Regions from separate parts of the Homo sapiens genome. Here region 2 is linked to region 1. A link means that fine-mapping ties the variant in region 1 to the expression of a gene that starts in the linked region. Tissue or cell type: whole blood. Region 1 holds a variant in brackets; the other region holds the start of a gene. All regions are shown on one strand. Distances are between the middles of the regions.

Region 1 (5,149 bases):
TGAGCCTGCCCAGTATTCACTGTTCACAACTTTGATTACTGGCTACAAGAAATATTTTCTTGCCTTCCCCAAATCCCATACTCCCCAGAATCTGCTGGCAAAGTGAGCCCTGGTACAGGATTTAATTGTGACCTCGTCTTCCCTGACCTGTGTAAGCATCTCTGTATCCTTTCGGTTTTAATATCTGCACTGCCAAAAGCAGTCCTCATACTTGCAAAAGGTCTGACAAGGTTCTCTCCACATACATTCCAGTATGTAAAGAGACCATGAATATTTCAGTAAGAGCAAGAACATGACTCCATCAGTGTGAAATTTCAAATGTGATTATAAATATGGGAGAGTCCTATAGGAGGGTCCACCAGAGATAAACTTCACGGAAAACGTTCCCTAACCTCCTTTAAAAGAATAGAGGATGGCAGATTGTTCCAAAAGGAATGGCTTGGGTTTTTAACTAACAAATGTTAGCAAGCCTTTCTTGAATTCACTATGTATTCAAACTTCTAATATGCTTTGTGATTTTTTTCTTTCATTTCTTTCTGTCTGAGGTAACCAGGAATTGCGTTCAAAATGAGCTCATTTGTGATCAGGCTTAAAAGTTGCCCAAGCTGAGGTCGTTTCCCCCCAGTCACAAAGCAGAATGTTTTTCTCAAGACTTCATAGGCACTTACTGGTCCGTACTATCTTTGGAATATAATTAGAAGCTTTGAATCCTTGAAAAGCAAACCTGTTCTCTTCATCAAAAATGCTAACCACCTGTGCCCGTGGATCAATATCACCTGGATGTAGTGCTTGATATTTTTCCCAACTCAGAAGAAAACCATTATGGTTTAGAGAGGAAATGCAGAATGGCAGAATCCACCAGAGAAATTGCACTTATCGAAACAGGCCAAGGCCTGCATGTGTTCGGATAAATCATTTAGTATTGTGTAAATAAAGCTGCAGCCTTTACTTCGGAGGGATGGTGTGGGATTTTGGCCGAGGGAAGCAGGACAGAGAAGGAGCAGGAAGCTATGCTAATTTTCCTGTCAGCTTAAGGGATCCGTCTCAGCAAGAATCTTGTATTCTGATAACGGAATGCTGTACGTGCTGACCACATCTAAGAACCATTAAAAAGCAAGGAAACAAACAAACAACCCTTTTCTCATTCCGACACACGAATAGTCATCGAGTATTACACCAGCCCCTCTGGTGGCTTCCTTCAAAACTGTTGATCTTAGCTAAAGTGTATAACCAGTTACCAGCTGCACTTCGCACGGCCATCCCGTCCACAATGCAGCAGACTCTTCCCAAGGCCACCTAGCAAGCAAGGTTGATCGGATCATCTAAACTGGCCGCCTCCTGAATATTTCACTGAATCCTGGCGTTCATGTTGAAGCAGACAAAATGAGAAAGGAGGAGGGCATTGCTCACCTCTCAATAGCTTTTTTCGTTCAAGTTCTATGTCTTTATCAGCTCTTGCCTGTGATTTTACCCCAATTCAACCTTGGGAGTGGGAAGAATATGAACAGATAACCCTTGGCCTAACAGCTCCATCAAACCTCCTTGAGAGCAACTACCTAGGCCAGGCTAGTGAGTGCTTTGTGAGGAAGCTGGTCAGAAGGTTCCCTCAACTCCTTCCTGGTCCTCCTGGACACTGCAGAAAAGACTTAGGGGATCCCCAGCAGAGGCCAATTGCTCTCCTTCCTTCCCTGCCCCACCAGGAAAGGAATAACGTCCACAGACTTGAAGCAGATAGTGAAGTAGATCTGTGAGAGGTTCTAGGTACTTAGTGTGTAGACTTTGACGAATATTTCTCAAGTTGGGAGCCCTTGTTAAAAATGATGTTTAAGGGAGTGGTTGGGGGGAAGATGAAGGCATGGAGGAGGAAGAAGAGAAGGAAGCCCTTGCCATATAAAATTCATGCAGACTAAACAGTTTCCCTGACAGAATAAATAAAGTGGATGCTACCCCACTCCAGAATCAAAAGCAATTTAATTAAAGTCTCTTAAGTTGTAAAGAGTTTTAAATGATCCGTGTTGAAGGCGAATGCCTGCAAATGCAGTGGGTCTGACGTCAGCTGCCGGGCCTGGGCTGGGAGGCCATTTGCTATTCTGTTTAAGGCAGGCTGGATTGTCTTATTTTGGAACCAGCTTGGTGGGGGGTTTGCTTTGCTACTGCTTCTGAGCCCTGAGCTTCAAAGGCTGAAATTAATGGTGAACAAAATTGTGCGGCTCTGGCCATCCCATGCGGGGCAAGCCCATTGAGGGTTATCATTAAGTAAAGAAATAAAGAGGGGGAAAAAAGCCTGCCTGTTCCAAAAACCTCATCAGATAATGACCTCAGTGATTGGGTTTTCATTACCAAACAGCATCCAGAGATTATCAACCCATAGAAGAAGGGAGGGGAAAAAAAAGAAAGAAAGGAAAAGCAACTGTCTTTCTCTCCCTCTCTTTCTCCTTTTTTTTTGCACATCTTTTCTTTAAAACTGTCAGATCATTTCAGTATTTCAAATCCGAGGAAAACAGCCTGCCTGCTGCTGTATTTGAAGTTGTAATGGTGTCAAAAAGTCACGACTGACTGACAGCCGTCAGTCCCAGAGGGGCTCATTAAATCATAAAAACTTGACAAGGAAATAATTGCGCATTGCCAGCAACTTGGCGCCTGTTTAGACGTTTTTATTTTCTTTCATTATTAGTCCCCACCATTACGTTCATTAACAAATTGCATTAAACAACTGTTAAGGGCTAATGATTTGTTTATCGCTTTTTTTTATTATTATTATTTAAACATTAGCTGTGTCATGTGGTACCC[CA/C]AGCAGCCTCTTGCCATCATCTGACTGAATATTTTTCCACTCCGAGCTCTGGGTACTGTTGGAATATGAAATAGATTATTCATTACTCTCCTCTTTGCCACTGATTTGGTTTCATGTAGCGTCTTCCACAGAGAAAGATGAAAACTTGTCAAAAATAGGTTATATCTTATTCGAAGGGGCAACAATAGCAGCAGGTACAGGCACACTTTAATATTTAATTAAGGTTGATGTTAACCCCTTTAAATGACTTTAGCTGTAAGTTGTATTCAAATGCAGAAGAGAAAAATAATTGTTCTTAATTTGCAACCTGTTCAGCAGGCGTTCTTCATGGAGTGAGCTGGAAATTTAGGGCAGAATTTTTAAATAATGAAATTTCCCATCGTAAATATTAATAGCAGTTTGTCTACGTAGTGGAGAATTAACTAGGAGTGATGATTTCCTCATCCCTTTGGTTTGAACTGCTAGCCTAGTGAGGCACTCCATGCTTGGGAGTGGAGGTGGCTTTCCTGGGAGAAACGTGTGTGTGGAGGGGAAGTTCAGAGCCAAGTTCTGTTGGTTGGTTGTGGTCAGCGCTGGTTTCAGAGGAACCACCGTGAGTCCCTGGTCTCCAAGCCACTTGCCTTCCCCTTTGGCTGGGTGTGTTGTTGCAGGGATGTGGGCAGGCGGGAGAGCCAGTAGAGACATCTTAAAGGAAGATGTGTGTCTGGTTGGCTGGTTTGGGGAGGGTCTGATTGGGGGTATGTCTTGGGCATCTCCGTGCCGTCAACTGGAGCTCATTACAAACAGCGCTTCCCTAATATGCAACAGGGAGACACTTTGCTGAGATGGGCCTTCTGTCCTTTTTCCTTTCTGTGACTTGCTATTGGTGAATGGCTCTTCTTTTCCATGGACCATGAGCTTGAAGGGCCAGGGAGGACAAAGCCCCATCGTCCTCATCCTAAATCGGAAGTCAGTGGCCTTCTCCATGCTATGGCTGCTGTCTATGTCTGCTCAGCCTGTTTGTTTGATGAGTTTATATAACCATGGAAGCCACCCTCAGAGGCCCGGTTCATTGACACTTCAGGGCAGGGGTGTTGGGTCAATATCAGGGAATGGGAAGTTCCTTTCTCCCATCCCCAGAGGGACCAGGCCCCTTATGTAGCTCCACCATGGGTGTGAGGGGAAGAGATGGTGCACGTTCCTTGCTCAGTGTAGCATCTCTCAGCATCACCCATCCAAGGACAGATGGTCCTGCAGGAGCCACGGCGTGGGAGGTACCTGCCTGGCAGGCACGAGCCAGGTGGGACCTGGCCTCAAGCCTCTTTGGTTACTATGGGCGTAGGAACAGCAGACATGCCAGGCTTTGGAGGATCTCAAGCCTCCATTTCAATCCAGGATAAATTAGCCACATGACAATCTGTCCCCCTTGGGATGGCCTTCACACCTCAACAGAAAAGGTACCAAGAGCCATTTTTCCAAAAGGAAGAAAGGAAGGAAGAAAGGAAGGAAGGCTGGCTCTGTGAAGAGCCATCCTCAGTCCAACTCCCAGTGACCCTGGTTGAGGGTCTGCCTGAGACTAGCTCAAACTCAACCTCACCCTATGCAGTAACTCTCTAACTCTAAACTAGCCCCCAAGAGATATTCTGGTGGCTTCACTTTGCCTGTGACCCATCAGACTCAGACCAGTGGCACCTGCCAGAGGCTGGCCACATAATGTCAGCAGTCAGGTGGCTCTCAGCCCAGATGCCAGTCTTTGTTAAACAGGGCAGGTGACTGCGTGGACAGCTCAGAAAAGCTCCTGAAGCCACAAATATTGCACCCAAGATGGATGAGAGCAGCCAGGCCCAGGCAGCAAGAGTCTGTCACTGGAGCCAGGACTTCCTGAAATGAGTGACTGAGCCAGGGTTAGTGTCCTGTTGTGGAGGAGGGCAGATGCGGGGAGTGCAGAGTGAGTTCCCATCTCTATTGGGATTCCAGCGCAGTAACAAGGAGCCAGCTTACCAGAGGCGAGCAGGGCAAAAGCAAGATGGCAGGATGGGGCACGATATGTTGGGGGTTGGGTAGCAGAGGGTGGACAGGTGAGGGATGGAGGGTTTTTCTAGCACCAGGGGATAGCAAGGGCAAGTAGGCCCCCTTGAGCTCATCACTGCCCTTCTTCAGGAGGAGCTAAAGAGGGGGAAAGACAGGGTGCATCTCTCCAGGGCCCCCTGCCCCAGTCAAACACCCCTGTGGCCATAGCTCCTGGGCTCCCAGTGTGCCATGGGGAAAGCACTTCCTCATCCGGAATCGCTCGTTACTCGTGCTACATGAAGAACTCAGACATCACAGAGGGGGCAGTCGCCAGGAAGCAGAGCTCTGGACTGTGATTCCATGAACTCG
Region 2 (5,149 bases), 370 kb before region 1:
AAATTCCCACTCCTCCCTCAGGTCCCCAACTAACAATGCTCAATTCTTCTAACTTTAACAGCACCCATCACGTTCTACTTTATAGTTTAGTGATTTGCACAAGTGCGTTTGTTTCTTGCTTAGGTTATAAGCTCTTTCAGAGTTCAAATTACATCTTACCCTCCTCTGTACGCATTTTGAATAGTACATAGCACATGATATACACCAGTGCTTCCCGAACTTTAATATACCTAAGCATCACCTGGGCACTTTATTAAAATAAAGATTCTGCTTCAGTATGTCTGAAGTGGAGCCCAAGATTCTGCCTTTCTGACAAGCCATCAGGTGTGGTCCCTTAGCAGGAAACATGGACATTCATAAGCATAAATTTCCCAGTAGTTTTTAAGCTATAAATGGATTTGGACTATACTTCCCAATGTTATATTTTCAGTGCAATGATTTTAAAACTTTATGATTTAAACCAGCAGTTTCTAAAGCGTTTTTCTCAGTTCTAAGGGATGTTAATGTATTACATGAAAAAAGGTACTACAGCCAAACCTCACTGTGTATGACATGTGATGTTTCCTAAACTTTTGACCATGAACCTATCCCACCTCCACCCCACCTCCATCTTTTTTTTAATGCAGAGCAAATATTCAATAAAATTGCTTTGGAAAATGCTATTTTGGATCAATGTGTTCAAACAGATATGAAATAAAGTCTCCGAGCCTAAATGATCAGTGATTAGAGTAATATACTTAGTCTCTGTGAGGACAAACAGTAGGCTGTGTTTGGTATTATTGGTTAGTAGATAAGGCAAAAACCAAATATACGATTATCATTAAAGTTCATTGTCTTACAGAATCTTTCTTACCGGTTTCCACCCCAGAGGGACAAAGCCCGGACCGACAAACATGGCATTGAAGTAATTATAAAGAATCATGACAGTCCAATTTATCAACATGATGAAATTCACACTTCCTCCAGTTGTATGTAAGGGCCAATACCACAACACAGAGTCAATCATGGCCATGGTAGAACATATTGCTATAACACCAAGGGCTATGATGGGACCCCAGTGACACAGTCTCTTTAATTCTTGTAGATTTTCAAACTTGATAACCGAACAGAATGTACCCATTTTGGCAAGGAAGAATGCCTTCCTACTTTAAAAGAATTATAGATTTCCTTTTTCTGTGCGCACATTTCCATGTGCCACAAGTCCATGTGTGTTCTTTAATTGTCATGCCTTCAAGCTGTGAACTGTTAACGCAGATTACACCATTTTCACTGTCAGGCACCCAAAGCTCTTTATCTTAACTAGGAGAATCCAGTGTCTTGGTCTGAAACCCAACCTAAAGAAAACAAAATGGGAAAGTTCAGTTAAAACAAAACAAAACAAAACCTTTATTGCATACCATACTTGTTAACTACAATAAACACCTACACAACAGCATCTCACAAGTGCACTACACTTTGGGATGCATATCTTGTCAAATGTCAAAAAGAACTACTTTTGACTTATCCAAAATATGGTACAAGTTTGAATGGCATGCAAACTGGATACACGATTCCAAAATAGTTTTTTTTATTCCTTCTCCGCTTGTCAGGGGACTGTCACCATCCAACGCTTAGTGAATAGTTTGAGAAGACAAAGAATTTTAGGACCTTAGAGTTGATCTAATTCAGTTTCCTTCTTCATAGAACAGAAATTGTCTTAGAGAGGCTGAGTGATTAGACCAAGGTCACAAGTAACAGGTGAACCAGAATAGAAGGCAAGTCAACGACCTCCCTTTATGAAATTCTAAGCTGCCTCTTATGAAGTCTTGAATTAAGCCAAGTATGAGTCAGACATGGTCTATGCCATTTGCCTGCAGTCTCCTCCACCCCGCCACCCAAACATCAAGAGAACAGTCAATTTGGCCCAAAAGTAAAGGAGCGACAGTGAAAGCAAAGAGAGCATGCAAGGAAAGGAAGGGAGGAGATAGAGCGAGAGTGTGTGTGGTGTGTGTGAAATTATGACCAGAAGAGTATATGAGAAGAACCTGAATTAGAAGATTCGAGGGAAGAAAGAAGAGGAAGTGCCTCCAGGAGCGAGGGAAATGGAAGGCAGGGCGGCGAGCTCCGGAGAGATTTGTGGAAGGGCATCTCTGCCTGGACTGGATCTGAAGATCTGGAAGAGGATCTGAGCTACATGGATAATACAGACTACCACGCAGCAGACGCTGTTGACTTGTGCCTCAGTTTCCCGCCCGAGTCATGGAGCAGAGGGCTTAGAAATAAATCCTCACCCAAGGAAGAAATATCCTGGTAAGCCAGGTTGGTCTCAACATTCAGGAGAGCCTGCTCCCACTCTGGTGGGACAAAGACCACCAAAATCGTGCTTATATTCCCTGCCTTGACTCCCACCTCAGTGTGGTCCCTGGTGTCTGCTCCTCAGCCATCGCATATCCGGGGCGGCCTGGGCTCACCCGGAACAGATTTTTTCCTCCTTGGATGACTCCGTCATGGACACCTCAGCCCAGGACAAGCAGAGAGCAAACCCTGGCAGCGAGAGGCTGGAGTGCGGGACCTGCTACAAGCCGAGCACCTCTCGGCCAGCGCCCTCGCCAGGACTCTCCCGCTCAGGCCCCCTGCGCAGTCTCTGTTACTGTCACTTCCGGAGGTTCGCCGCCTCAAACCTCCCTCCGGAAGCAAGCTGCTGTGCCTTGTAGCGTGTGGATCCGGAGCCGATTCCCAGAACACGAAGGGGGGAAAAAACGCTTCTAATGATCCCTCAGAACTTGCATATTTTCATACGCTTTTCTGGGGGGAGGCACTAATTGGGGCGCTTTTCCTTTGCGAACTTACTTATCTTAAAGTCGGAGCGGAAAATAAAGCACGCACGCAACCCAATTTCCGGAGAACCGAGATTGCGACGAACAACCAGGAAGCGGCTGGGTTGAGAGCTGTCCCCGGTTCTCCGTTCTGCTCTCGGGGGCACCTTCCGGGGTTCCTAAGCCGCGGGGCCCCTCGCTGCCCCTCGAGGCCCTTTCCCTGACCTAGGCTTTGGCCTGGGCTACTCGTTCCGGAGCCGCCATGTCGTCCGACTTCGAAGGTTACGAGCAGGACTTCGCGGTGCTCACTGCAGAGATCACCAGCAAGATTGCGAGGGTCCCACGACTCCCGCCTGGTGAGAGCCTTGCCCGGCTGGACGAGGGTGCTGGGGAGAGCTGGGAGGGTGCGGGCGGTGGAACGCCGCCCGAGTAAGTGTGTCTATGAGGCGCGAGGCTGGAGTGGGTGGTGCCGGCTGTTCCCAGGAGGGATACGGCTTGGCTTGGTTGAGGGTAAGGAGTCAAGTTCGGGTGTGGGGTGCCGTGAAAAGAGCCTTCGGAATCTGAGCCATCTGAGTTCGAATCCCGGCTCTACCTTCTTGTAACTTGCATAACCTGGAAACGTTTCTTAACGTCTTAAGAGTCTTAATGTTTTCATTTGTAAATTATAGACATGTGAGTATTCAAAGAAAATGAATGAAAGTATGTAGCCTATGGATCTACAATCTACAGCGGCGTTGTTGTGTTAGTAATAATATTGTTATAATTATATGCGGCAAAATAGAGGTAAGAATCAGGGTGCCTAGATTCAAATCCTACCTCTGTCACTTAGAAGTTGTGCCTCTTAACCCGGGAGGCGGAGGTTGCAGTGAGCCAAGATCTCGCCATTGCACTCCAGCCTAGGCAACAAGAGTGAAACTCCGTCTCAAATAAATAAATAAAATAAAAGTTGTGCCTCTTAAACAGACTTCTTAGTCTCTTTCAACTTTCCTTCTTAGTAAATGGGGGAAAATTGTACTTCTCTCATGGGGTTGTTAGGTAGATTAAATTTATATAACATATTTAAAGTCACTTTTGGTGTTGTTAGTTGCTGTATTAGCATTAGTATTTTTCATACCCCCCACCCCCATTTCTTGTTTCTCATCCTTCTTGGGGATTTATTGTATAACCCAGTTTCATGTAAAACTTGGTACAAGATAATTTTTCACACTTAAAAATTTCACATCTCCCATCTGGAAATGTTTTTGTTTTTGTGTTTCCTTTTGTGTTTTAGCACATCTTATTTTCTATGCTAGACTGTCAACTATGTGAAGGTGGGAGCTGTGTCTGATTTCCTTGGCGTTTACTTATTAGGGGCTCAGGAAAATAAGTGAATGAGCAGGTGAATATAAATATGATCTTTTGTAACTATGGTTTGTACAATGTTGATTCGGGGACTATCTTTCTCTACAGATTAGAGTAGTTAGTTACAGAAAAGGGTTTTACATTTTTGTTTAGTTTTGTTAGGGAAATTGAACCATCATCTGGCTGCTAGACTTGTCCCTACCCTAGCTCCAGGATATAAAGTGTAGAAAGGTGGATGTGCTCATTAATCTGCGGATTGGTGGGCACTTCACTTGCCCACTTGTCCTGGTACTAGCAATAATTTCTCCCGGACCTAAGTTGTCATTCCTCTTTCCCTTTCCCTACTTCCCCCAAAACTTATGTGTTTATAAGTAATTTTCTTCCCTTATTTCTTTGTTTTTCTTCCCCTCACCTATTTTCTGTTAATAGGGATATTTGCTTGAAGCCAGGATCTCTGAACTTATACCCCACTCATCTCCTGAAGTCCCCAGTTAGTTCTGGAGGAGATGGATGATGTCTTAAAGAGGTTTATGAGTCCAAGTAAGGGAACAAGAGGAGAGAACCAAGGTAGTATATACCACCAAGCTCTGCTGCCTCAGAGATTTTTGTGTCGAAAGTGGCTGATGGCCTCATCTCTTCATGATACATCACCTCGCCTCTTCTCTTCAGTTCTGCTTTTCTCCACTGCCGGAGATCGTCTTGATTTTTGTTATTGTTGGAGACTACTTCCTTTGAATTGAGTCCCAGAGCCTCAGAGTATCAGGACTTGTGGTTCCAGTTAGAGTTTTACTCATTTTTAATTGTAATTGTTTTAGCAGTAGAAACATTTCTTTGGGTTATTAGTTTTTGTATTGGGAAGCTGTTTTACAAGGTAACAAAATCATCCTTGGATGCAAAGTTGTAAATTTCCAAGAAAACAGATCGTGTTACAATTTTTTTCTTGCCTTTATATTTTAATGTGACAATTCTTAACACATAGAAGGAAACTTTTTGAATTCAGTACCTTAAAAATA

The links. PIP is the estimated chance that this variant, and not a neighbour inherited with it, causes the effect.
Region 2: VTI1A starts here. The variant in region 1 is fine-mapped to the expression of VTI1A in whole blood (INTERVAL, PIP above 0.99).

Annotation. Positions count from the first base shown.
Region 1 is chr10:112,816,018-112,821,166 of GRCh38, forward strand. It overlaps VTI1A (vesicle transport through interaction with t-SNAREs 1A), which reads left to right. Exons shown (of 8, transcript NM_145206.4): 8 at 1-2,727. Among named protein-coding and RNA genes, the nearest start is that of LINC02935, 72 kb to the right of the region's middle. The variant CA/C (reference allele first, on the strand shown) is at 2,791.
Region 2 is chr10:112,444,317-112,449,465 of GRCh38, forward strand. VTI1A (vesicle transport through interaction with t-SNAREs 1A) reads left to right here and starts at 2,899. Exons shown (of 8, transcript NM_145206.4): 1 at 2,899-3,151. The coding sequence starts at 3,058. It overlaps ZDHHC6 (zDHHC palmitoyltransferase 6), which reads right to left and starts at 2,598. Exons shown (of 11, transcript NM_022494.3): 1 at 2,389-2,598; 2 at 854-1,334. The coding sequence starts at 1,120. RefSeq lists enhancers at 2,385-2,504, 2,705-2,964.